Linked DNA regions of Homo sapiens. The protein of the gene in region 6 purifies or fractionates together with the protein of the main gene of each other region. This does not show direct contact. Each region holds a gene or a part of one and is shown on either strand. Other genes may lie near its edges.

The links.
Region 1: the proteins of CFAP141 (region 6) and SLTM purify together in Homo sapiens (affinity purification with mass spectrometry; one large-scale study listed by BioGRID and IntAct). This does not show direct contact.
Region 2: the proteins of CFAP141 (region 6) and RABL6 purify together in Homo sapiens (affinity purification with mass spectrometry; one large-scale study listed by BioGRID and IntAct). This does not show direct contact.
Region 3: the proteins of CFAP141 (region 6) and RRP36 purify together in Homo sapiens (affinity purification with mass spectrometry; one large-scale study listed by BioGRID and IntAct). This does not show direct contact.
Region 4: the proteins of CFAP141 (region 6) and UTP11 purify together in Homo sapiens (affinity purification with mass spectrometry; one large-scale study listed by BioGRID and IntAct). This does not show direct contact.
Region 5: the proteins of CFAP141 (region 6) and MYH4 purify together in Homo sapiens (affinity purification with mass spectrometry; one large-scale study listed by BioGRID and IntAct). This does not show direct contact.
Region 7: the proteins of CFAP141 (region 6) and ESF1 purify together in Homo sapiens (affinity purification with mass spectrometry; one large-scale study listed by BioGRID and IntAct). This does not show direct contact.

What each region holds. Positions count from the first base shown.
Region 1 is NC_000015.10:58,881,680-58,885,179, reverse strand, and holds part of SLTM (SAFB-like transcription modulator), read left to right. Parts: intron 1-1,393; coding exon 1,394-1,554; intron 1,555-3,500. UniProt on the Homo sapiens protein: When overexpressed, acts as a general inhibitor of transcription that eventually leads to apoptosis.
Region 2 is NC_000009.12:136,828,448-136,831,947, forward strand, and holds part of RABL6 (rab-like protein 6), read left to right. Parts: intron 1-46; coding exon 47-99; intron 100-945; coding exon 946-1,037; intron 1,038-2,509; exon of another isoform or gene 2,510-2,576; intron 2,577-3,273; coding exon 3,274-3,414; intron 3,415-3,500. UniProt on the Homo sapiens protein: May enhance cellular proliferation. May reduce growth inhibitory activity of CDKN2A.
Region 3 is NC_000006.12:43,024,623-43,027,360, reverse strand, and holds part of RRP36 (ribosomal RNA processing protein 36 homolog), read right to left. Parts: intron 2,377-2,738; coding exon 2,229-2,376; intron 2,099-2,228; coding exon 2,032-2,098; intron 1,325-2,031; coding exon 1,220-1,324; intron 232-1,219; exon of another isoform or gene 184-231; coding exon 109-183; intron 2-108; coding exon 1-1. UniProt on the Homo sapiens protein: Involved in the early processing steps of the pre-rRNA in the maturation pathway leading to the 18S rRNA.
Region 4 is NC_000001.11:38,019,234-38,022,733, forward strand, and holds part of UTP11 (probable U3 small nucleolar RNA-associated protein 11), read left to right. Parts: intron 1-19; coding exon 20-150; intron 151-3,465; coding exon 3,466-3,500. UniProt on the Homo sapiens protein: Part of the small subunit (SSU) processome, first precursor of the small eukaryotic ribosomal subunit.
Region 5 is NC_000017.11:10,466,760-10,470,861, reverse strand, and holds the start of MYH4 (myosin-4), read left to right. Parts: upstream 1-1,302; 5' UTR 1,303-1,325; intron 1,326-1,525; 5' UTR 1,526-1,574; intron 1,575-3,918; exon of another isoform or gene 3,919-4,077; 5' UTR 4,078-4,102. UniProt on the Homo sapiens protein: Muscle contraction.
Region 6 is NC_000001.11:154,200,960-154,203,333, reverse strand, and holds part of CFAP141 (cilia- and flagella-associated protein 141), read left to right. Parts: intron 1-2,374. UniProt on the Homo sapiens protein: Microtubule inner protein (MIP) part of the dynein-decorated doublet microtubules (DMTs) in cilia axoneme, which is required for motile cilia beating.
Region 7 is NC_000020.11:13,771,420-13,774,919, reverse strand, and holds part of ESF1 (ESF1 homolog), read left to right. Parts: intron 1-2,304; coding exon 2,305-2,405; intron 2,406-3,436; coding exon 3,437-3,500. UniProt on the Homo sapiens protein: May constitute a novel regulatory system for basal transcription. Negatively regulates ABT1.

The DNA.
Region 1 (3,500 bases), on a different chromosome or scaffold from region 6:
ATGGATGTAGCACCTTGTAAGTGCCATAGCACTAAGTAGTACAATGTAAAATAAGTTCACAACTCCTGTTTGCTGTGCTGTCTGCATGTTGTCCTGATAGGCTGATCATAGGCCCTGCCGTGCCTTGTCTTAAGGTTTTGATCTCTGGCTGTGCCTTCTTACAGTCAATATAAGATCCAAGTATTTGAAATAATCAAGGGTCAAAAAGCCCTTGGGTGCTAGAAAATACAGAAATACAAATTAATGGCCAGGCCTGGTGGCTCGTGGCTGTAAACCTAGCACTTTTGGAGGCCAAGGCGGGAGGATTACTTGAGGCCAAGGGTTCGAGACGAGCTTGGACAATATAGTGAGACCCCCATCTCCATAGGAAAATTAAAATTAAAGATGGGCATGGTGGTGTGCACCCTGTAGTCCCAGCTAGGCAGGAGGCTGAAGCAGGAGAATTGCTTGAGCCCCAGGAGTTCAAAGTTGCAGTGAGTTACGGTAGCAACACTGTACTCCAACCTGGGCAACAGTGTGATCATGTCTCCAAAAAAAAAAATTATTTTTTAAAAAAAGGAATTGGCCAGGTGTGGTGGCTCACACCTGTAATCCCAGCACTTTGGGAGGCCTAGGCGGGCGGATCATGAAGTCAAGAGATCAAGACCATCCTGGCCAACATGGTGAAACCCCGTCTCCACTAAAAATACAAAAATTAGCTGGGCGTGCTGGTGCATACCTGTAGTCCCAGCTACTTGGGAGGCCGAGGCAGGAGAATCGCTTGAATCCGGGGGGCGGAGGTTGCAGTGAGCCGAGATCGCGCCACTGCATTCCAGCCTGGCAACAGAGCGAGACTCTGTCTCAAAAAACAAAACAACAACAACAAAAGTATTAAATCATTTCCTCCATACCCTTCCCTGAGACCTGAGTAGCTTCTCACTACAAAATAGATATAAACTCTTTTCATATGCTGCTGCACTACTCATCCTTTTATCTTCTCAGACATCTTATTAATTTGCTTCTGACATTAAAAGCACACCAATATAAGTTGGTATGAGACCAAGACTGAGGGTATTGTGACTTCTCCTTTTTTTTTTTTTTGAGATGGGGTTTCACTCTTGTTGCCCAAGCTGGAGTGCAATGGCGCAATCTCAGCTCACTGCAACCTCTGCCTCCCGGGTTCAAGTGATTCTCCTGCCCCAGCCTCCTGAGTAGCTGGGATTATAGGTGTGGGGTACCATGCCTGACTAATTTTTTGTATTTTTAGTAGAAACGGGGTTGCACCATGTTAGCCAGGCTGGTCTCGAACTCCTGACCTCAGGTGATCCGCCTGCCTCAGCCTCCCAAAGTGCTGAGATTATAGGTATGAGCCACTGCGCCCGGCCAAGTGACTTTTCATATGCTATTCTTTTAGCACTATCCTGAGGAGCGACATGTGGTTGAACGCCATGGACGGGACACAAGCGGACCAAGGAAAGAGTGGCATGGTCCACCCTCTCAAGGGCCTAGCTATCATGATACGAGGCGAATGGGTGACGGCCGGGCAGGAGCAGGCATGATAACCCAACATTCAAGGTAAATAACTAACCAGTTTTTCTGCCAGCACACAACCAACACTTTATCCTTTCCATAAAAGTCATTATAGTTTCTGAGAGACTGAATTGCAACTACTGAAAACCCTAGATCTGCCTGAACATTTCCCTGTATCAACCCGTAGTCTCCAAAAGAGTGTTTGCAGAACAGCTGATATTAATGTGTTAGTTTGTATTCTTCCTTTTAAATGAATTCAGTGACGTTCTGGCAAGTTGATATAGATATGGGTATGTACGTATGGCAGGATCCAGTAAACAATGAATTCTTTTGTTTTGTTTTGTTTTTTGTTTTTTGAGATGGAGTCTCACTCTGTCGCCCATGCTGGACTGCAGTGGCGAGGTCTTGGCTCACTGCAACCTCCGCCTCCTGGGTTCAAGCAATTCTCTCATCTCAGCCTCCCAAGTAGCTGGGATTACAGGCATGTGCCACCATGCCCAGCTAATTTTTATATTTTTAGTAGAGACAGGGTTTCACCATGTTGCCCAGGCAGGTCTCGAACTCCTGACCTCAGGGGATCCGCCTGCCTTGGCCTCCCAAAGTGCTGAGATTACAGGCGGGAGCCACTGCACTCAGTCTAGATAATGAATCTTAACCTCACATTGGAACCATCATCTTGTTCTCTACCTAGCATTCCTCAAATTCTTAGGAAGAAAATACTGAAAGTGTGTTCTGTTTCCTCCCTTTTAAAATAACTCTTGGGAAGGCTTTTAGACATTTAACACAAAATCTCTTCATACGTTAAGAGGCGAGCTTTACTTTCTCTTCACACTGAGGTCGGATGTGGCCCTTCAGCCAGCAGGTCTTCAGCTTCCCCATCTCTTTCATGTCCTCCTTTCTTTCCCATTCCTCTTTCTTAGGAGAGTTATTGGCTTGACTCAGTGACCCAGGTCACTACTATTCCATGGTCACTTCTACCATCAAACTTCAGTAAGTGTGCTACTTCTGCCTGCACAAGCTCAACATTCATTGTATCTGGTTTGTAAAGGTCACCGATGACTTTTCTCTTGATAAATATAGATTCTTTTATTTTCATGGTTGTCAGACTCCTTGGTGGTTAAACACTGTTTCACACGGTCACTTATCTTTATTTTGAGGGAGTCTGTTTTCTAGGGCACCATCATTTTCTTTCTGCCTTTGTGACTGCCTTTGCAGGCTCCTTCCCGTGGCTAAGCTTTAGACACTGCTGTTTCCTTTCAGCTTCATGTTGCCACTGCCATGTAAGTGCTTTGCTGTTTCCATGAATTCAAGGTCACAGTCAAACTCATTCCTCTCCTTTTTCAAACCTTTGTGTCCCTTTTGTTGCCTCCAGTTTCTTTCAATTTGATAGTGCCACCATCCATTTCATTCACCCTGACTGGAAATACGGGGCTTGTCCTTACCTTTCTTCATTCCTAGTATAAATTTCTAAGTGTGGTTTTTTTTTTTTGAGACAGAGTCTTGCTCTGTCCAGGCTGGAGTGTAGTGGTGCAGTCTCGGCTCGCTGCAACCTCTGCCTCCTGGGTTCAAGTGAATAGCTGGGAATACAGGCGTGCACCACCACGCCCAGCTAATTTTTGTATTTTTAGCAAATGGGGTTTCACCATGTTGGCCAGGCTGGTCTTGAACTCCTGACCTTGTGATCTGCCCACCTCAGCCTTCTAAAGTGCTAGGATTACAGGCATGAGCCACTGCGCCCGGCCGTGTGGCTCTATTTTTTTTTAAATGTTTCTCAGGCTGGGCACAGTGGCTCATGCCTGTAATCCCAGTACTTTGGGAGGCCAAGGTAGGTAGATCACTTGAACTGAGGAGTTTGAGACCAGCCTGGGCAACATGGTAAAACCCTGTCTCTACAAAAAGAAAGTTTATCATAGCTATCCCTTATTCCTCATTTTAGCTTCTATCTGATCTTCCCAATTATTGTGTTCCATTACCCCATTTGTAAATTGAAC
Region 2 (3,500 bases), on a different chromosome or scaffold from region 6:
AGGCCCAGGGGTTCCACCTCGTAATTTTTGTTTGTTTTTAAATAAGGAAAATGCAAAAAGCGAGGCGACGGCTTAAAGATGGAGAACGACCCCCAGGAGGTGAGTGCCAGGTACACAGTGGGTAGCAGTGGCTCAGGGCCCCGGGGTGCGTGAGCCGGTGCCCAGCGCTTCACACGCTTTTGACCCCAACCACCCCAGTTATGCTGTGGCCACGGGGGCCGCTGGCCTTCCCAACTGCTCTGAAAACCCCACACTGCCATGGCTGTATCTGGGGGTGGCCGGCTCACCTGCACTCGACAGACATCACGTTGGACTGACCCCTATTTGCATTTGAGTGACCTGAGAGGTATTTAAGTGAACTCGCCAAACTTTTATCCCAGTCTCGGTGGGCTCGGCCCTTCAAAGCACAGGACACATCTCGCAGCGCCATGGGCGTGAGTTTCGCTCACCGGAGCCACCTGGGGCCAACCCAACCTGAGCCCGACACACCCAGGGCCTCGCACTCTCCGTGCGGTGCCTCCCACTCCCTTTAGAGCATGGGGTGGAGTGACTCTGCCCACAGCACTGCAGCTAACCCTGTTTGTGGGCACTGGAACCTTCCGGAACGCACATCTAGCTGAGGGCAGCTGGTAGTCCAGCACCCACTTCTATTTTCGAGTGGTGGTTTGGTTATCCGTGAGGCCTGGGGCGGACACTGCTGTGATCAGTGGGAGGTCCTGGGTAGGAGGCTTGTTCAGGGAGCCATCAGCGAGGCTGGTGTTGACCGTCAGACCCTTTGGGGCAAACCTATGTTTAGCTATCCCATCTCTTCAGCATATCGTTTCCAAATGGAAATGGCTGTTATCTTTTCAGATTAGAAGACTATCCAGCCTTTTCTAAAACTGTGGGCCACACGGGTGGGGCCCAGCCTGGGCCAGTCTCACACCTGTTCCCTCCTGTCCCCAGGCGGAGTCTGAAATGGCCCTGGATGCTGAGTTCCTGGACGTGTACAAGAACTGCAACGGGGTGGTCATGATGTTCGACATTACCAAGCAGTGGTAAGAGGGAGCTGGCGGGGGCAGCTGCCTGTGACTCTCACCCCCCTAGCCCCTTGGGCGCCCTCTTTGTGCAGCAGATAATGGTTAGAGCAGCATCGTTCTGCAGGACCGAGGGACTCTTGCTGGGCAGCTGTGGCAGCTCAGCCACAAGGGGCACTGGCCTGGATGTCGGGCTGGGCAACGACTATGCCTGTGCCTATGGGGCGGGATGGCGTGGGCCGGCTGCAAAAGGCATCTGGGGCAAGGCACGCACCTTCCATAGCCCCACTGTTCTTCCTGAAAACCCATCTGAGACTTGGCGGAAGCAAGTGGCTGCTTGTGCTGGGGGCTCCCCGCGACCTCCGTCTTCATGACCTAGGAGGACCCACAGCCAAGATTCATTCTAGCAAGAAGATGACAGCGAAATCAGCTAAGGGCAGTGGCACACAGGACGATCTCTGGGGGACCAGGCGCAAGCCCCCAGAGTCCACTGTGGAGTCGCATGGGATCCACTCAGCTCCTCAGGAGTGCAGTGTCCCCCAGGACGCACCGGAGCCCCAGCGGGGGGGTGCTGCGGACGCACACTTGGCACAAGGCTCCTAGAAGAACGAGGGCCGCGTGAAGACCAGTGTCCTGGTGCAGGGCCCCTCCTAGCCACAGCCAGTGCCCGGAGCACCAGGAGCAGCATGCCCGACACGTCCAGGCATCTGCTCTTCCCAGCAGTGGGTCTGGCCTGGGGGCCTAGTCAGCAGCTTCTCTTACTTGGGAAGACCCCCACACCAGGGTTAAGCGTACCGCCTGTCACGGGGCCGCACACTCAGCACGCATCAGCAGCCCAGGCCTGAGGGCGGCTTGAAGCACCTGACCAGCCATGCTCTGGGCCTCTGCCAACCTTTGCCAATGCTGGGAACCATGCCTGCCCTCCCAGCCTTCAGCACCACCACCAAGGACTGACCGCAGGCACCCTCAGGAGAGCCCTCGGTGGGGGTGTGGCACACGGATGGCAGGAGAACCACACACGGGGCTGGCGGCCCCACCCCAGGGCACGAGTTCAGCTCGGGCGCACACGCTGGCCTCACCTGGGCGAGCAGTGGTGCTCCTCTCCCTCCGGCCTCTCCTGTCTAGGCAGCAGGCCAGCCTGGTGGGTGGGAAGTGGCTTTTCCCAAGCGAAGTTGAGTGTGGACACAGTGTGGCCTCCACGGCACCTCCCACTGCTGCCACAGGAACGGCCTGGAGGGAGCTGCAGCCGCCTGGGCTGCCGTGCGAGGAGTGGGCGGGAGTGACAGCGAGACTTGAGCCAGCCTGAGAAGACGCGGCAAAGGCGCTTACCTGTGGGCCCGGAGACCCTGTTGGCAGCACCAGCCTGGGCAGGCGATGCCTATGGTAGCAATGCTCTGTCTGGAGCCCCTGGTGCCCAGCAGGAAGGATGGAAAACACTGGCTCAGACAGCGGCTTCAAGCACCACGCAGGCCCTTCACAGCCACGAGAGGCAGGAGACACCAGAAGGCCACCTGCTTAGGAGGCCAGAGGTGCCCCTGGGCCGGCCTTGGTGAGGGGCCCGTTTAAATGACTGCGTGTAAATGAAAGAAAATGAAGTTAGAAACAGGATGTTGCATTTTTTACTCCCTTATGTTGGCTTTCAGTCGTGGGGAAGTTTTGTCACTTGAAGCGCTGGTTATTTCTTCACAAGCCATTTGGAAAACCACGCAGCTGGGAAACTGGCAGTTCCACGCCAGGCAGACTCTGGAGACTTGCCGTCCGTGCCAGGAGATGTCTGCTTAAGACAAGGCTCTCCAAACAGCCCGCTTCACCGGCAGCCGCAGAGGCACCCCAGGGTGTCCTCGGCTGCCCCGGTGGGCAGGGAGCCTGGAGGACCAGCCACAGGGTCGACACCAAGGGGCACAGAGGACAGTGCGGAATGAGGGTGGACACAGATGAAGCCAGAGGTGGTTTTGTAGGGATGCGGACATGGGGTGCTCTGAGGGAAGGCAGGGACAGGCAGGGGCGTTCCAGTGTGGGGTGCGGTCAAGTACCTGCCGTCAGGGAGAGGGACGGGCGGGGGCTGCAGGCTGAGGGGTGCGAAGGCCCTCGAGGCACTTCCCTCTAGCTCTGCATGCACGAGGCATGCTTCTGCTGGGTTGGATGTTGGAAATGAGAAGCAGCCACCATCCTCGGGCCTGGGCGCACAGCACCTTTCCAGGGAGGGACAGGGCGTCGCAGGGCTGAAACTAAGCCAGGTCCTCACCTGTTCTCCGAGGACCTTCAATTACATTCTCCGGGAGCTTCCAAAAGTGCCCACCCACGTGCCAGTGTGCGTGCTGGGAAACTACCGGGACATGGGCGAGCACCGAGTCATCCTGCCGGACGACGTGCGTGACTTCATCGACAACCTGGACAGGTGGGTGCGGTGGCCCTGCTCCCGAGGGACCCTGCCCGGTGCTCCGGTGTGCGGGGGAGGGTGCTGAGGCAGAGGCCCAGGGAGGG
Region 3 (2,738 bases), on a different chromosome or scaffold from region 6:
CCTGAGGAGCAAAGATGAGATGGGTGAACGGGAGGGATCTGTTCAGATCTGTGAATATCTCCCACCTTTAATTGCTTTCATTACCCACCACAATTATTACCCACTCACCATTCGCTGAAGCAGTTGCTGCAGTTTCTCATGCTCCTCTCCTGAAAGGTGCTTCTTCAACTGTTTTTTCACAAGCTCCACATTGGAAAATGAGTATCATGGTTAGCATTCTGCAAATGTTAGCTGAAATTTTATGTAAAGCATTATCCTAAGAAGTTCACACACATACACACACACACATTTTTTTTTGAGATGCAGTCTTGCTCTGTCACAGGCTTGAGTGCAGTGGTGTGATCTTGGCTCACTGCAACCTCCGCCTCCTGGGTTCAAGCAATTCCCCTGCCTCAGCCTCCCAAGTAGCTGGGACTACAGGCACGTGCCACCACGCCCGGCTAATTTTTTTTTTTATTTTAGTAGAGACTAAATTTCACCATGTTGGCCAGGATGATCTTGATCTCCTCCTTTTGTATTTTAGTAGAGACTAATTTCACCATGTTGGCCAGGATGGTCCCAATCTCCTGACCTCGTGATCCACCTGCCTCGGCCTCCCAAAGTGGTGGGATAACAGGCATGAGCCACCGCACCCGGCCAGAAGTTCACATATATTAACTTGATAACACCAAGACAGTAACTGTTTGTTTGGAGACAGTCTTGCCCTGCTGCCCAGGTTGGAGTGCAGTGACACGATCTTGTCTCACTGCAACCTTTGTCTCCAGGGCACCAGCAATTCCCATGCCTCAGCCTCTTGAGTAGCTGGGACTATAGGCATGCAACACCACACTTGGCTAATTTTTCTATTTTTAGTAGAGATGGGGTTTCACCATGTTGGCCAGGCTGGTCTTGGAACTGCTGGCCTCAAATGATGTGCTCACCTCAGTCTCCCCAAGTGCTGGGATTACTTACAGGCGTGAGCCACCACACCCGGCCTCCAAGACAGTAATTATTATTTTATTTTTTTATGATTAGAAAACTAAAGCATAGAGAGATTAAGTAACATGCCAATAATCACACAGCTAGTAAACTGATGAGCCAGGATTTGAATATGAACTGAATTGGAGAGAGTTAAATCTGCCCACCACTATACTTCCCACTCCCCCTGCCCAACTCTCTAACCTGTGCCCTCATTTTCCACCCCACAAAATTCCCCATAAACCAGTCTCAAGCTGTATACCTCTTTCTCTTTCGCTCGGATGTCATTCAAGAATTGGTATGTTTTGTCAAACACCTCAGGATTATATTCCCCTGACAGATCATCAAAGCGAGGGTCCCGGGCTACCTTTGGAGAGAAGAGAGAGAATATAAAACACAACTGTTCAATCTCCTTTCACTGAGAAAAAGTGCTTCCTGTCTCTTCCTCATCTTTCTTTTTTTTTGCTTTTTGAGACACAGTCTCGCTCTGTCGCCCAGGCTGGAGTGCAGTGGTGCAATCTCGGCTCACTGCAAGCTGTGCCTCCCAAGTTCACACCATTCTCCTGCCTCAGCCTCCTGAGTAGCTAGGACTACAGGCACCCGCCACCACGCCCGGCTATTTTTTTTTGTATTTTTAGTAGAGACGGGGTTTCACTGTGTTAGCTAGGATGGTCTCAATCTCCTGACCTCGTGATTCGCCCACCTTGGCCTTCCAAAGTGCTGGGATTACAGACATGAGCCACTGCGCCCGGCCTCTATTTTTTTTTTTTTTTTTTTTTTTGAGACAGAGTCTTACTCTGTCCCACAGGCTGTAGGGCAGTGGCATGATCCTGGCTCACTGCAACCTTCACCTCCCAGGTTCAAGCGATTCTTGTGCCTCAGTTTTCCAAGCAGCTGGGACTACAGGCACACACCACCATGCCCAGCTAATTTTTGTATTTTTAGTAGAGACAGGGTTTCACCATGTTGGCCATGCTGGTCTTGGAACTCCTGATCTCAGGTGATCGCCCACCTCGGGCTCCCAAAGTGCTGGGATTACAGGCGTGAGCCACAGTGCCTGGCCTTCTTCCTTACCTTTTTACTAATGGGAACAACCTGACGTAAAAATGGTACTCGGATCTTGGCTGACATTTCCAGAGGCCTATGGAGAAATTAAAAGCCAAGTCAAGAGGACTCCAGTGTTGGTCAAAGGCTTCCCACCTGTCACCCAAGACAACATACCTATTCAAGGTCCCAGTTATCTTCCAACTTCTAGGGCAAGCCTTGCTTACCTGTGCTTATCTGCAACACATGCATTTTGGATAGGTGGTCTAGAAGCTTGTTTCTTAGGACTATTTCCAGCTACCAATTGTTTGTACGTCTTAGTCCCCACTTGGCTCTGCAATTCCAACAGCTCCTCAAATGACATGTTAGATGTGCCTGTGGAAGTGGGGAGGGACATACAACTCAGCTCAGCATGTCCCACTGCAGAAAAGACATCTTCCCATCCCCATTCCTTAGCTAGCTAATCCTAATACCCCATCAGACCAATCATTATTAGAAGTCCTAGGCAGCAGAGGCTGTGATAGTGTTAAACTCTCCAACTATTTCAGCAACCTGGGGCCTCATCTTGCTAAGGAAGGTGTATATGTAAGGTCAAAGGTGCACCAAACCATAGTCCCTTCTTTTTCTCTTTTACTCATTCTTTTACTCTCTCTTTTACTCATTCACAGGTTTCCCCAGAAGGGCATCTGCCTCCCTTGCTCAGTTACCATTGCCAGTGTCCTGGTCCACATGCTCAG
Region 4 (3,500 bases), about 120 Mb from region 6:
GGATTGTCTTGAATTTTAGTTGAACAGTTTGATGTCGCAACTCACCTGCAAACAGCCCCGGAGCTAGTCGACAGAGTCTTTAATAGGCCCAGGATAGAGACCTTGCAGAAAGAAAAAGTGAAAGGAGTTACCAATCAGACTGGACTTAAGGTAATTTTCTCTGTTGTTCTTCACATGTGAGCTTAGGGGAATCTAGGTGTTTTTTTTTTGTTTTTTTTTTTTTGCTACTGCATTTAAAATAATTTTTAAAATTTATTTTATTTTATTTTTTAGTCAGAGTCTCACTGTCTCCCAGGCTGGAGTGCAGTGGCACGATCTCGGCTCACTGCAACCTCCGCCTCCTGGGTTCAAGCAATTCTCATGCCTCAGCCTCCCCAGTAACTGGGACTATAGGGGTGCAACACCACACCCAGCTTATTTCTGTATTTTTCATAGAGATGGGGTTTCGCCATGTTGGCCAGGCTGGTCTTGAACTCCTGACCTCAGTTGATCTGCCTGCCTTGGCCTCCCAAAGTGTCGGGATTACAAGCGTGAGCCACTGTGCCTGGCCTAAAATAATTATTTATTTATGGAAAACTCATGAGTTCCCTTAGAAAAGTGGATTTGTAGGATGATTTGATGATGGGATGGAAGTGGAGAAGGGCTTCCTAATTTCTATGATCGGAGGAGGTATAGTGGTCAGAAGCTTAGGTTCTGGCCTTTAGACCTGGGTTTGAATCCCAATTCTGACCCTGCGCTTTGTGCTTTTAATACTTGTAACAGATGCCAGTGTTTTGAAAATGCAGAGAAAGGGATTGCTGAAGATTAAAGGATTTGCAATACTTTAATATTGAACCTTTAGCAGTGAATACGCACATCAAAAGGTCTTTCTGTGTTTTTATTTTTCTTGAGACAGGGTCTCACTGTCACCCAGGCTGGAGTGCAATGGTGTGATTATGGCTCACTGCAGTCTCCACCTTCTGGGCTTAAGCGATCCTCCTGCCTCAGCCTCCTGGGTAGCTGGGACCACAGGTGTGTGCCACCATGCCTAGCTAATTTTAAATTTTTTTTGTAGAAACGGGGTCTCGCTAAGTTGCCCAGGCTGGTCTTAAACTCCTGAGCTCAAGTGTTTACTCCCGCCTTGGCCTCCTGAAGTGTTGGGATTACAGGCGTGAGCCACCATGCCTGCCCAAAAGGTCTTTCATATTGTGTATTGTAACAAAAATTTTGTTTTGGCTTTTCCTTATGGTGCTTTCCGTCACTGTAACTGGGTTGTGCAGAAGACATGCTTTTCCTGAAAGCCTTCTGGAGTTGAACTCTTCTGACTGATTCATTAAAAAAAAATGCTGTCAATGTGTTTCAAGCAGACAGCTGTTCTGTTTTGATTTGAATCATTTACACTGCATCAGTTTTGCTTCCAATGTTTAATTTCACAGCAGTTTTCTCTAGCTCAGAGGCAGCTAAACTTGCTTTAGTAATATAAATACCCCTAATTAGTTTGACTATATTGGGTAATCCCATAAATCTGACAGTCTGTGCAATAAAGCGAAAACAAAAGCTGTCTGAAACCACTGCTGTGAGACTGTGCTAGAATCTGTGAATTGTTGAAGTCTAAGGCCCAGTAATATTTCCTTCTGTAGATAACACTTCCAGCCAAAGAGCTTGCTCATGAGTGTTCTTGTGATAACCCTGTTGTTTGTCAATTAGGTGTACTTTTTTTTTTTTTTGAGACGGAGTCTCACTCTGTCACCCAGGCTGGAGTGCGGTGGCGTGATATCGGCTCACTGCAACCTCTGCCTCCTGGGTTCAAGCAATTCTCTTGCCTCAGCCTCCCGAGTAGCTGGGATTACAGGTGCCCGCCACCACGCCTGGCTAATTTTTTGTATATTTAGTAGAGACAGGGTTTCACCATTTTGGCTAGGCTGGTCTTGAACTCCTGACCTTGTGATCCACCCACCTCAGCCTCCCAAAGTGCAGGGATTACAGGCGTGAGCTACCGCGCCCGGCAATTAGGTGTACTTTCAATTAGCCGTGTCACTGACGCTTCTCAAGAATTGTGGTAGTCCCTAAAGAGATTAGTATTCCAAATTCCCATGTAGAATAGTTCACCAGCATAGCTTTTGAGAAGTTAGGGAGGTTTAGATTTTTGCCATTTTTGTCTAGTAATTATGTTTCTTTCTATTTTGTTTACTGCAAAATCATTTTTATTAAGAGACTGCTGGTGGGTGGATTGCAAGGATATTTTGTCTGTAACTTCGAGTGGGTAGACAACCCATGAGTGAGCTTTAGGAGGTCTGAGAAAACCCCCCTTTCTCACTGGTATTTTGTGCAGATAGGTATATGTGCTTGCACAACCTTTTACAAATGTGTATGTACATTTATCTCAAGAAACATCCCATGCTGGGCGTGGTGGCTCATGCCTGTAGTCCCAGCAATTTGGGAGGCCAAGGCAGGTGGATCACTTGAGGTCAGGAGTTCGAGACTAGCCTGGCCAATGTAGTGAAACCCTGTCTCTACTAAAAATACAAAAATTAGCCAGGCGTGGTGGCGGGCACCTGTAATCCCAGCTACTAGGGAGGCTGAGGCAGCAGAATTGCTTGAACCCAGGAGGCGGAGGTTGTAGCGAGCCGAGATAGTGCCACTGCACTCCAGCCTGGGCGACAGAGCAAGACTCCGCCTCAGAAAAAAAAAAAAAAGAAGAAAGATCCCAAAGCTTTCATCAGTTTCTCTGAGGTTGATGATTCCCCAAAATGTAAGGACCCCACTGATCTTTGAGGAGTCATTAGCAGTGAGAATTCTCAGGTGAGCTTCTGCTGAAAAAATTCTTCTGCTTTCTGAGTGGTAAGATTTTCAGGCACCAGCACACTGCCTGGGGACCCTTCTGTTGCCGACTCTTCTGTTGCTCTCCATTCACTTTGTATAGGGTTTCCAACACTGATTCATTCCTGCCATCATCTCAGGTGACTGTGGCACTCACACAAAGGTTGAAGCAGCTTAGTGTAGTAGTGGAAAGATTCCTGGGATTTGTGAGAGGGGGACGGTCCTGACTCTGCTCCAGGTGAGCTGTGTGTCCTTGGACCACTTCTTCTCTGGGCCTCATTTTTCTGCGTTTGTAAATGACGGGTTTCGATAAGATAGTCTACAGGGTTCCTTTTTTAATTTTTAATTTTTTTTTTTTGAGACAGAGTCTCATTATGTTGCCTACGTTGGTCTGGAACTCCTGGGCTCAAGTGACCCTCCCTCCTCAGCCTCCCAAAGTGCTGGGATTACTGGCGTGAGCCACTGCGTCTGGCCCAGGGTTCCTTTCAGCTCCAGAATGTGATGTTCCTAAAATGGGCAACGTTATTGTTACCACGTTATGTTGATTCTGGTGAAAGAAGGGAGTTGATGAAACTATGCAGTTGGCTTAAATGGATTAAGAAACAGTTTCTTACTCATTTTTGTCCTGTTCATTGTTCACTGAGAATGTGTGTGTTTCTTCTCCAGCGAATAGCTAAAGAAAGGCAAAAGCAGTATAACTG
Region 5 (4,102 bases), on a different chromosome or scaffold from region 6:
AAGTAAAAATAAATGAGTTGTGAAAATCTGAGAGAAAAAATAGAACAAGTTTCCTTCTGGCCTAGAGCCTAGCACTTTGGGTAAGTCGCTAGACTTCGGTGAGTTATTTTCATGGAGATTTTGTTTTTAACGCCTGATGACCTATTTCATAGAATTTTATCAAAATAAATTTTTAAAGTATAAAAGATTCAATCTATCAATGTGTCAAAGATAAATTCTAAGTCAACAGAATTATAAAAACAGTGATCTCATTAATTGGTAATTTAAGCCAGCTAATGATAGTTGAAAATATCTCACCAGAGCTCAGTTAGGGTCACACTTAGAGTAGGTATATTTCCTGCCATATTCAGTAACAGCTGTGTATGTAGCAAAACCATCAAAAGCCAATTTATGAGTATTATGGGCATATGTGATGGCCCATCCATCTTTTCAATCCACAGGGAGAATATCGTGGATACCATGACTTTCCTCCCACCTTAAATAAAAATATGTGGTTCCCACCTCATTAGAGCTATAGCTAGTCATGAGAGTCTGCCCATGAACTAGGAATGCATGTTTGTGTCTCCTTCCATTATGCAGAGGAAACATGCATGGAACATCACACAGCATCCTGTTGTTCCTTCAGTGAAAACATACAAGCTGGAGATATCCATGGAAAGTCCTCCAGAAAAAGAACAGAAGTGTTTATATCTATTCTAAATCCCTTATGCCTCCCCCAGTGGTCCATCACCACTGCCTAATCTGAGAATTCACTTTCACCTTCATATTTAGACTTTCAGACTTTAAAAGAATCTATCGCCAGTCTTTCTAAAATCCAGACTGTGGCTAGGAATGTTGTCTTAAAATCCATCGCTCACTGCTTCCAATCATAGTGTCAGGTCTAAAATTCATTCCAGACTCCTTAATGGCTCTAAGAACCAACAAATTAATTAATCCTAAATTCCTCACATCAGACTCATTCTGTTGGACCAATTTTATAGGCAGAGGAGTAAGTGGGAATCTGGCTTTGAATTCTGTGATGAATGATGCAACAGCCAAACTGGAGAAACAGTGTTAGAAGCCCTGAATCCCCATCCCCTATCAAATGCCTATAAAGAACCCTAGATCATCCTCTGTTAAATTATTTATGGGTGTCAAGAAATATTTCTAATTATATCCATTCACAGCCACAGTCAGTGAATATTGTGCAAAGAGATTGCCAAAAACGGTTTTGCCAAGTAGGTTCCCAGCTAGGACAGCTGAGGTGGCTGCTGTGTTTGCAGAATGGTCTCTATAAAAGTGGAGCTGAGATGCCTCTTTCCCATCCTTCCTCAAAATTCTTGAAGGTATGTATATGTGGAAGAACACTTACTTTTACATTCCTGATGATGATGATTTTTCATTTAAGGGATGTCTACTGCTTCCCAAATTTTAATTATTCTTTCCAACATTCTTAAGGACGACATTGTAGACAATATAGTTACTAGTATTTTGTGATTAAATGGGGAAAAAAAAGCATCCCACATTCTCTTTTTTCTTTCAACAGTAGTTGTCTGCTTTGAGCCTGCCACCTTCTTCATCTGATAATACAAGAGGTAAGAATAATTTATTATTACACTCTAAAGAACAAAGGAATCTCTATATTGCTACATCTTAATGAGCTACCATTTTATTTCCTAGTTTAGTATTGGGAATAGGATATCGGGGCAGCTGTTCTTTAAAAATGCCTTCTCATAAAATTTTGACTTTTCAGGCCACTTAATCAAACAAAACTTAATGAAACTTCTCTTTCACATGTTGTTAGAACTACAGAAAGAATGCAGCCATCATATGTAATATTTAATGTGAACTACTACTCCAACTTAACCCATAAAGATATATCAGAGAGACCGCATGATAAAATCAAGGTGTGTTTATCTGGAAGTCGATATTTCTAGGTGCCAATCCAGGCTTTTCACTGATTCTATTTGCCTGGGTCAAGCCAGTTAGCCTTTATGTATCTTGAAATACAGTGTGTTGCAAGTGGAATTAACAAACCTGCATTTAGCGGAACAGGACTCATGTCCCAGTACCGCCACTTATCACCCACCACTATGACACTGAATGACCCTGAACCTTTCTAGGCCTTAGTTTCCTCATCAGTAAACGAGGAGGCTGGATTCTATTGACTGCTAAGGTCCTTCCAGCTCTTGCCAACTGTGATTGACGTCAGTGGTTTTCAAGGACTCCTCCACAGAATCAAAACATTTAATGGAACCCTGCTAATGGAGAATCAAAACTAATGGAATCCTGCTAATTGTTCATGTGGAGACATGTACTTTTAGTATGATGTTAAGGATATATATAATCATGAAAACCTATTCTACACTTAAGAATTATTTTAAATGAGTTTATATTTAACATAGCAGCTATATTCATTTAGAAAAGAACAGAAAACACTGTTCATGTGGAAATGTTCCTTCCTTAAACTTGAGGCAATGATCACTGTGTGGGTGGATTCAAGAACCCCCTGCAACAACCTGAGGCTCTATTGGGGCTTGATCCCCAAGTTGGGAAACAATTAATCTATAATAAGACAGGAGATGGGAAGGGTAGCAATCATCTTTCTGTGTTTCCTGGATACACTGCATTATAGTAACCTCCACGTGGTAGTGTGTTGTTAATTCAAGTTGCCTGGTGTAAAAACAAACACAGAAACAAAATATAATGTAATATAAATAACATTTCTTCTTCAAAGAAAAAAAACCTGACATTAAATGTTCCAATATATATCCCCTGAAAATATGTCTAAGTTTCACAGTGTCATCAGGACACTTTTACAGATAAGACTGATTTTGAAAATAGAGTATGTGGAAATTCCATAGCTAACATTTTAAGTTGAGGGAAAGTTAATGCTGATGACAAAAGATCAAGACTCTGGAAAGCCTACAGAAGGTGGTGGCTATTGCTGTTGTCGCCATCATTGCTGTCATTGTCATTGGCAACCAAGACACTTCTGCTCCACAGAGGTCACCTTCTTTTATTCTGGCCACTCACCCTGTCCTTGCCATCAGGACAGCAGGACTTATTTTATTTTCTCATAATTAATTTGTCAGTAGGGAAAATTTTTTAAGTTCATTTTGGCTTGAAACTTTATACTGGCTATCCATTTCAGAAAAATATTTAGAAGACTGGTTGGTATTTTTAAAAAGAGGAGAAGAAAGAACGAGATTATAAACCTAAGAAAATAAGAATCAGATTTTAAAATATGTTAGGTTGAAATCCAACTAAAAACAAAGAGAAATACAGATCAACACATACAATCACTATAAAATTTTATTAAAAATTAAGAAGTTCCTTTTCTCCAAGAATCTTTTAAAGTTGTTTTTGGTTTAGATACTACTTCTGACTTTCAAACAATTTCAAAACTAATAAAGGAGATTTTAATTTTAACTTAGGGCAAAATTATATGTTGGATATTCAGCTTTCATTGTAGTTATTTTTTCCTTTACTTACCTAATACCTGTCAGTTAACTAGGTGTTTATTTGTAATGATTAGATCTGGACTTATGTCCGGAAAGAACAGGTGTATCTGTCTACATTCAATTTTAGTAAATCTGACATCCAATTTTAATAATTTGGGATGAGAGGAAAATTTGCATAAAGATCTGTATTTGAGTTTTTAAGACAGGTTCATTTATATTGTAAAGCCAGTGGAAACAGTTATTGTCCATTTCTTTGTATCATCACGATGTTAAGAGGGGGAAGTTGGAAATAAGAAAGAAAAGAAAAGTAGCAAGAAAAAGAAAAAATTCTGAACATGCTTGGAGCATCACAAATGTTGCTGATTGAATGTTGATTCCTCCACATTTCTCAACTAAGGTTTACAACATAGAGGATGGAACTTAGGCTTAAAGTATCACAAAAATTAAGCTATCAACATAGTGCTTTCAAATCAATGAGCTGATCTCTCAGCTCCTTGACATAGTATACAGGAGTGGTCCCTAAAGGCAGGGGTGAGGAAACAAGCATGGAAAATTAAGCACATTAATATGAAATCAACAGAACAATTCTCCACCCCAACCCTGAATCATCATTTGGCTCTGTTTCTTCCTCTAGGTATACCTAGTCCAGTACTGCCATC
Region 6 (2,374 bases):
AACCAGAGATCGCACCACTGCACTCCAGCCTGGGCAACAGAGCAGGACTCTGACTCAGAAAAAAAAAAAAGTAAAAACTACAGTCATTCCCAACAAAGTATATATATATATATATATATATATATATATATATATATATATATATATATATATATATATATTTGCCCAGTCAGAGATAACAACTTTTTTTTTTTTTTGAGGCAGAGTCTCTCTAAGACAGAGTCTTACTCCACCACCCAGGCTAGAGTGCAGTGGTGCAATCTCGGCTCACTGCAGCCTCCACCTCCTGGGTTCAAGTGATTCTCGTGCCCCAGCCTCCTGGGGAGCTGGGATTACAGGTGTGTGGCACCACGCTCGGCTAATTTTTGTATTTTTAGTAGAGATGGGGTTTCACCATGTTGGCCAGACTGGTCTTGAACTCCTGGCCTCAAGTGATCTGCCCGCCTCAGCCTCCCGAAGTGCTGGGATTACAGGCATGAGCCATTGCACCCAGAAAGTTTTTACTTTTCACTTAATGTATTTTTTTTTTCCTTGGGACGGAGTCTTGCTCTGTCGCCCAGGCTGGAGTGCAGTGGCACCATCTTGGCTCACTGCAAGCTCTGTCTCCTGGGTTCACGCCATTCTTCTGCCTCAGCCTCCCGAGTAGCTGGGACTACAGGCACCCGCCACTGCGCCCAGCTAATTTTTTTATATTTTTAGTAGAGACGGGGTTTCACCGTGTTAGTGAGGATGGTCTCGATCTCCTGACCTCGTGATCTGCCCGCCTGGGCCTCCCAAAGTGCTGGGATTACAGGCATGAGTCACCGCGGCCGGCCTCACTTAATGTATTTCTGTGTAGATTCAATTTTTTCAACATGTGGAAAATGTACTTTTGATTTTTTAAAAATGCCAACAGTAGATATATGTACATGCATGATGTATATTTATATTCTTTCTATATATTAAAAAACTTAAAACTGGCCTGGCATGGTGGCTCACTCCTGTAATCCCAGCACTTTGGGAGGCTGAGGCAGGCTGATCACTTGAGGTCTGGAGTTCGAGACCAGCCTGGCCAACATGGCAAAACCCCACCTCTACTAAAAATTTAAAAATTAGCAGCCAGGCATGGTGGCTTACGCCTGTAATCCCAGCACTTTGGGAGACTGAGACAGGTGGATTACATGAGGTCAGGAGTTCAAGACCAGCCTGGCCAACATGGTGAAACCTCTGTCTCTACTAAAAATATGAAAATTAGCTGGGCGTGGTGGCATGCACCAATAATCCCAGCTACTCAGGAGTCTGAGGCAGGAGAATTGCTTGAGCCCAGGAGACAGAGGCTGTAATGAACCCAGATTGCGCCACTGCACTCCAGCCTGGCTGACACAGTGAGACTCTGTCTCCAAAAAAAAAAAAAAAATTACCTGGGCGTGGTGGTGGGCGCCTGTAATCCCAGCTACTCAGGAGGATGAGGCATGAGAATTGCTTGAACCTGGGAGGCAGAGGTTGCAGTGAGCCAAGATCGGGCCATTGCACTCTGGCCTGGGCGACTGAGCGAGACTATTTCTCAAAAAAAAAAATTAAAACTTCAATGAAGATTCCAGTCTAGCCAGGGCTGAGAATCACTAGTATGAGGGAAGGGATATTAACTTTAGAGAAATTGGATTTGGGGCCAGGCGCGGTGGCTCATACCTGTAATCCCAGCACTTTGGGATGCTGAGTCAGGCGGATCACCTGAGGTCAGGAGTTCGACACCAGCGTGGCCAACACGGTGAAACCTCGTCTCTACTAAAAATACAAAAATTAGCCAGGTGTGGTGGCACATGCCTGTAGTCCCAGCGACTCAGGAGGCTGAGGCAGGAGGATCACTTGAACCCTGGAGGCAGAGATTGCAGTGAGCCAAGATTGCCTCACTGCACTCCAGCCTGGGTGACAGAGTGAGACTCTGTCTAAAAAAAAAAAAAAAAGCTGGATTTGAGTCCCAGGTCTGCCATTAAGTGACCTTGGGCATCTCACAACTTTTAGTTTCCTTACCTGTATCATGTAAAAATTAATGCCTATGGGCCAGGCGCGGTGGCGCATGCCTGTAATCCCAGCTACTCAAGAGGCTGAGGCAGGAGAATCACTTGAACCCGGGAAGTGGAGGTTGCAGTGAGCCGAGATCACACCATTGCACTCTAGCCTGGGCAACAAGAGCAAAACTCTGTCTCAAAATAAATAAATAAATAAATAAAATAACACCTATGCCACATAGTTACTGTAATGATTAAATGATATTATGTACTTAATACATACTAGGTTCTAAATTACCCTTTTAAGGATTTTACAGTCTTCTAACAGTGGGGCAGAGGTTCCAGGTGAAGAAACAGTCTTGGGCCAGGCGTGGTGGCTCACACCT
Region 7 (3,500 bases), on a different chromosome or scaffold from region 6:
TCAGTAAAGGGACAGCATATAAGAAGTGTTTTTAACAATAAATTGCATTCCTTATTGCTAACACTGGCCAATTAAGGAAAAAATCTAATTATACTAGAAACAAAACCACATAAAGTTCTTGGAAATTACCTTAATAAACACAAATGACCTATGTGAAGTAAACTGTAACACTTGATAAATTTGAAAAACTTACATAAATTTTGAGGATACCATATTTCAAGCCAACCTAATAATTAAGAATCCAGGCTTTGCATTATTGCAGACCTGGGTTCAAATCTTGATTCTCGTAAGTGTTATGTGATCCTGGACACTTAATTAATCTCTCAAGTATGTTTACATCTTTCCAATATATCCAAATGGATATAACAATAGTATTGGTGATTGTAAGGATTAAGTATAAAGGAGCTTGAACTAAGTATTTAGTGCAGTGCCTGAAATAGCCCTGCCCTCAATCATTATTAGAGATTGAGTCTCCCTTATCCAAAATGCTTGGGATCAGAAGTGTTTAGAATTTCAGATTTTGAAATAAAATTGCATTATATATACTTACTGGATGAGCATCGCAATTCCAAAATCTGAAATGCGCCAATGAGCGTTTCCTTTGAACCTCACGTTGACAGTCAAAAAGTTTGGAATTTTGGATTTGGGATTTGGGATGCTCAACCTGTATTATTCTGTTTAAATATTTAAAGATGTTATGTCTACTGTTCTAGGGTAATTTTGATCAAAATCCCAGTTCAAGTCAAAGTTAAGAAAAAGGATACCAATAATCATCTAAAAGAATAAACAAATTAAGAGTAGCTAATAAACTATTTTTTTTTTTTTGAGATGGAGTCTCGCTCTGTCGCCCAGGCTGGAGTGCAGTGGCGCAATCTCGGCTCACTGCAAGCTCCGCCTCCCGGGTTCACGCCATTCTCCTGCCTCAGCCTCCTGAGTAGCTGGGACTACAGGCGCCCACCACCACGCCCGGCTAATTTTTTGTATTTTTAGTAGAGACGGGTTTTCACTGTGTTAGCCAGGATGGTCTCGATCTCCTGACCTCATGATCCGCCCGCCTCGGCCTCCCAAAGTGCTGGGATTACAGGTGTGAGCCACCGCGCCTGGCCTAGACTAGCTAATAAACTTTTGAGAAATCATGCTAATATAAAAACTCACCCTGTCGCTTCTCGGCCTTTTGGCTAAGATCAAGTGTAAAAACTCACCCTACAAGTTACAATATCTAAACATTTCATGATGCTATGGGGGTTGACAGGTTTGGGTAAAAATGGGACAAATTGGTAGAACAGAATAGATAGAAAGAGTTCATATGATAACTTAGATCAAAATAGGCTGCTTGAATATTTGGACAAATGAACAGGTCATTGGATAGAGAACTTGGTTCAGATCTTCACCTCCTAATAGCTCCAGCGAAATTCTAGATGAAGCAAAGGAAAAAAAAATTAAAAGTCAAGCCAAAGAAACAATTTAAAAACCCTGTGTTTTAGGCAATAGTGAGAATTTCTAGACTTAGAAAAGAGGAAAAAAAAGAATCAAAAGATGTGACTACATATATATTATAAACTTACATATTAAACCTATTGTGTATATACTATTCAAGTTAGTAAGAAAAACTTGGATCATCTTGTTGATAAATTGCATATTTCAGACAGTTTAAAAAAGCATGTGTTCATTAACAAATGTATATTAAGCCTAGTAGTATCAAAACAATGTCATTAATACAATTATTTCTTGACTCTTAAAGTAGGCAAGATTTTAGAAGATACCACACCTGGTGAGAGTGAATTCTTTTTCTTATATCGAGACTATACCTAATCTGTATAAGGTTGTCGTCAGTTCTGTTCTATTTCTTTAAAAGAAAGCACTGGATAAATGGTATGACAGAGATAAGTTGGTTATTACAAAATTGATCTTCATTATATGTTTATTTTTCTGTATTTCATGTAAACTAATTCAGTCATTTTTCATGTGTGTGTTTTTATTCACATTTCCTTGAGCTTAGCATCTTGTTTTGCTTTTAATTTTTCGTTTGGATCTCGGAACCATCTTGTCCCAGGTGGTATGTGGAGGAGATACTCTTATTTTTGTTTCCAAGCCTCGTATCTTGTTAGTCTCTAGCCAAAGTGATCTATTTTTAAATAAAATTTCTCAAGATGCTCTAGCTTCCTATAGTGGATTTGGAAGTGAGTCACCCTTACTGTTTTCATTGAGTCAAGTTGTGACTTTTAGAGTTCCTGACTTCGACAGGTCTAGATATTTGTGTAAAGGAATGTACAAATTACATTGATCCTATTTTTTTCTGTTTAGATATATCCTTCAGAATTTGGAAAGGAGAGGATGAAGGAAGAGCAAGTTCAAGGACCAGTAGAGCTATTAAGTATTCCTGAAGATGCCCCAGAAAAAGACTGGTATTAAATCACTATAGAACATAAAACTAAACCTCATAAATTCATGTCATTAGTTCAGAATTCTGGTCACCTTAATAGTTAAAACTAAAGTTTATACTTGTGCCATTCGTGGTTAAAACAGGTTGCAAAACAGATTTAAAGTCTGTTAAAAGTGGTACATTATTCCAAGAAGATTTTTGTTCGTGTATATTTCTATTTCTGTATTCATGAAAGTAATTATTGCAGTTTTTGAAAAACATTTCATGATTAAACTGATTTGGAGTTCTTTTGAATTCTTTCAGCCTCGTTGCTCTGAATTAGTACGTTTTGCTTTTTTTTTTGAGACATCATTGAAGCTCTGTTTGCCTTCAAATTATATAATTTTTTCTTATTTGAGAATCAAATAGAAAAGTGAAAGAATGATAAAACTTTTTTTTTTATCATCATGGTGCAATATAGAAAATAATTTAAGATAGTTTTTAAGCCACTAGGTGGAGCTATATTTGCACTTAATAAAAATGAGGGTTAAATAGATTAGTGACAGGAGAGAGCAGATGAAGACCTTCAAAGAAAGAGTTGTATCAGTGCTTTGTGTGGAACCTTAAAAAAAAAAAAAAAAAAAAGAATGTGTTGTAGTTAAGCAAAATCAAACTTATAGACTCTTAAGCAAACATTTTGCAAGATCAGGAATGTCTTTTAGCTAATGGTTTTCTAGCATATTTTATAATAGAATTATCTTTATTGGTTTTACTTGAGAAGGCAGTGTGTAATAGCAAAGTAACTATTCTGTGAGTTAAATTATAGATAAACACACGAATTCCCACACACTCCTTTCCTAGATACCAAATTCCAATCCAAATATCTGTACCTTGTGAGAATAATAAGTTGAGCTTAAGTATTTAATGTTTATAAAGGCAAAGTCATGAAGGAAAGATGGTTTGGTATGAAGGCCAGCTTGTAATATGTTTTTCTTGAAAGAATTACATTTATTTTTTAAAGGGAAATTTTTGTGTTTCTGTATAAGTATGCTTAATAAGTTTTTCCCACTTTAGGACGTCTAGAGAAAAATTGAGAGATTATCAATTCAAACGACTGAAGTACTATTATGCAGTAGTA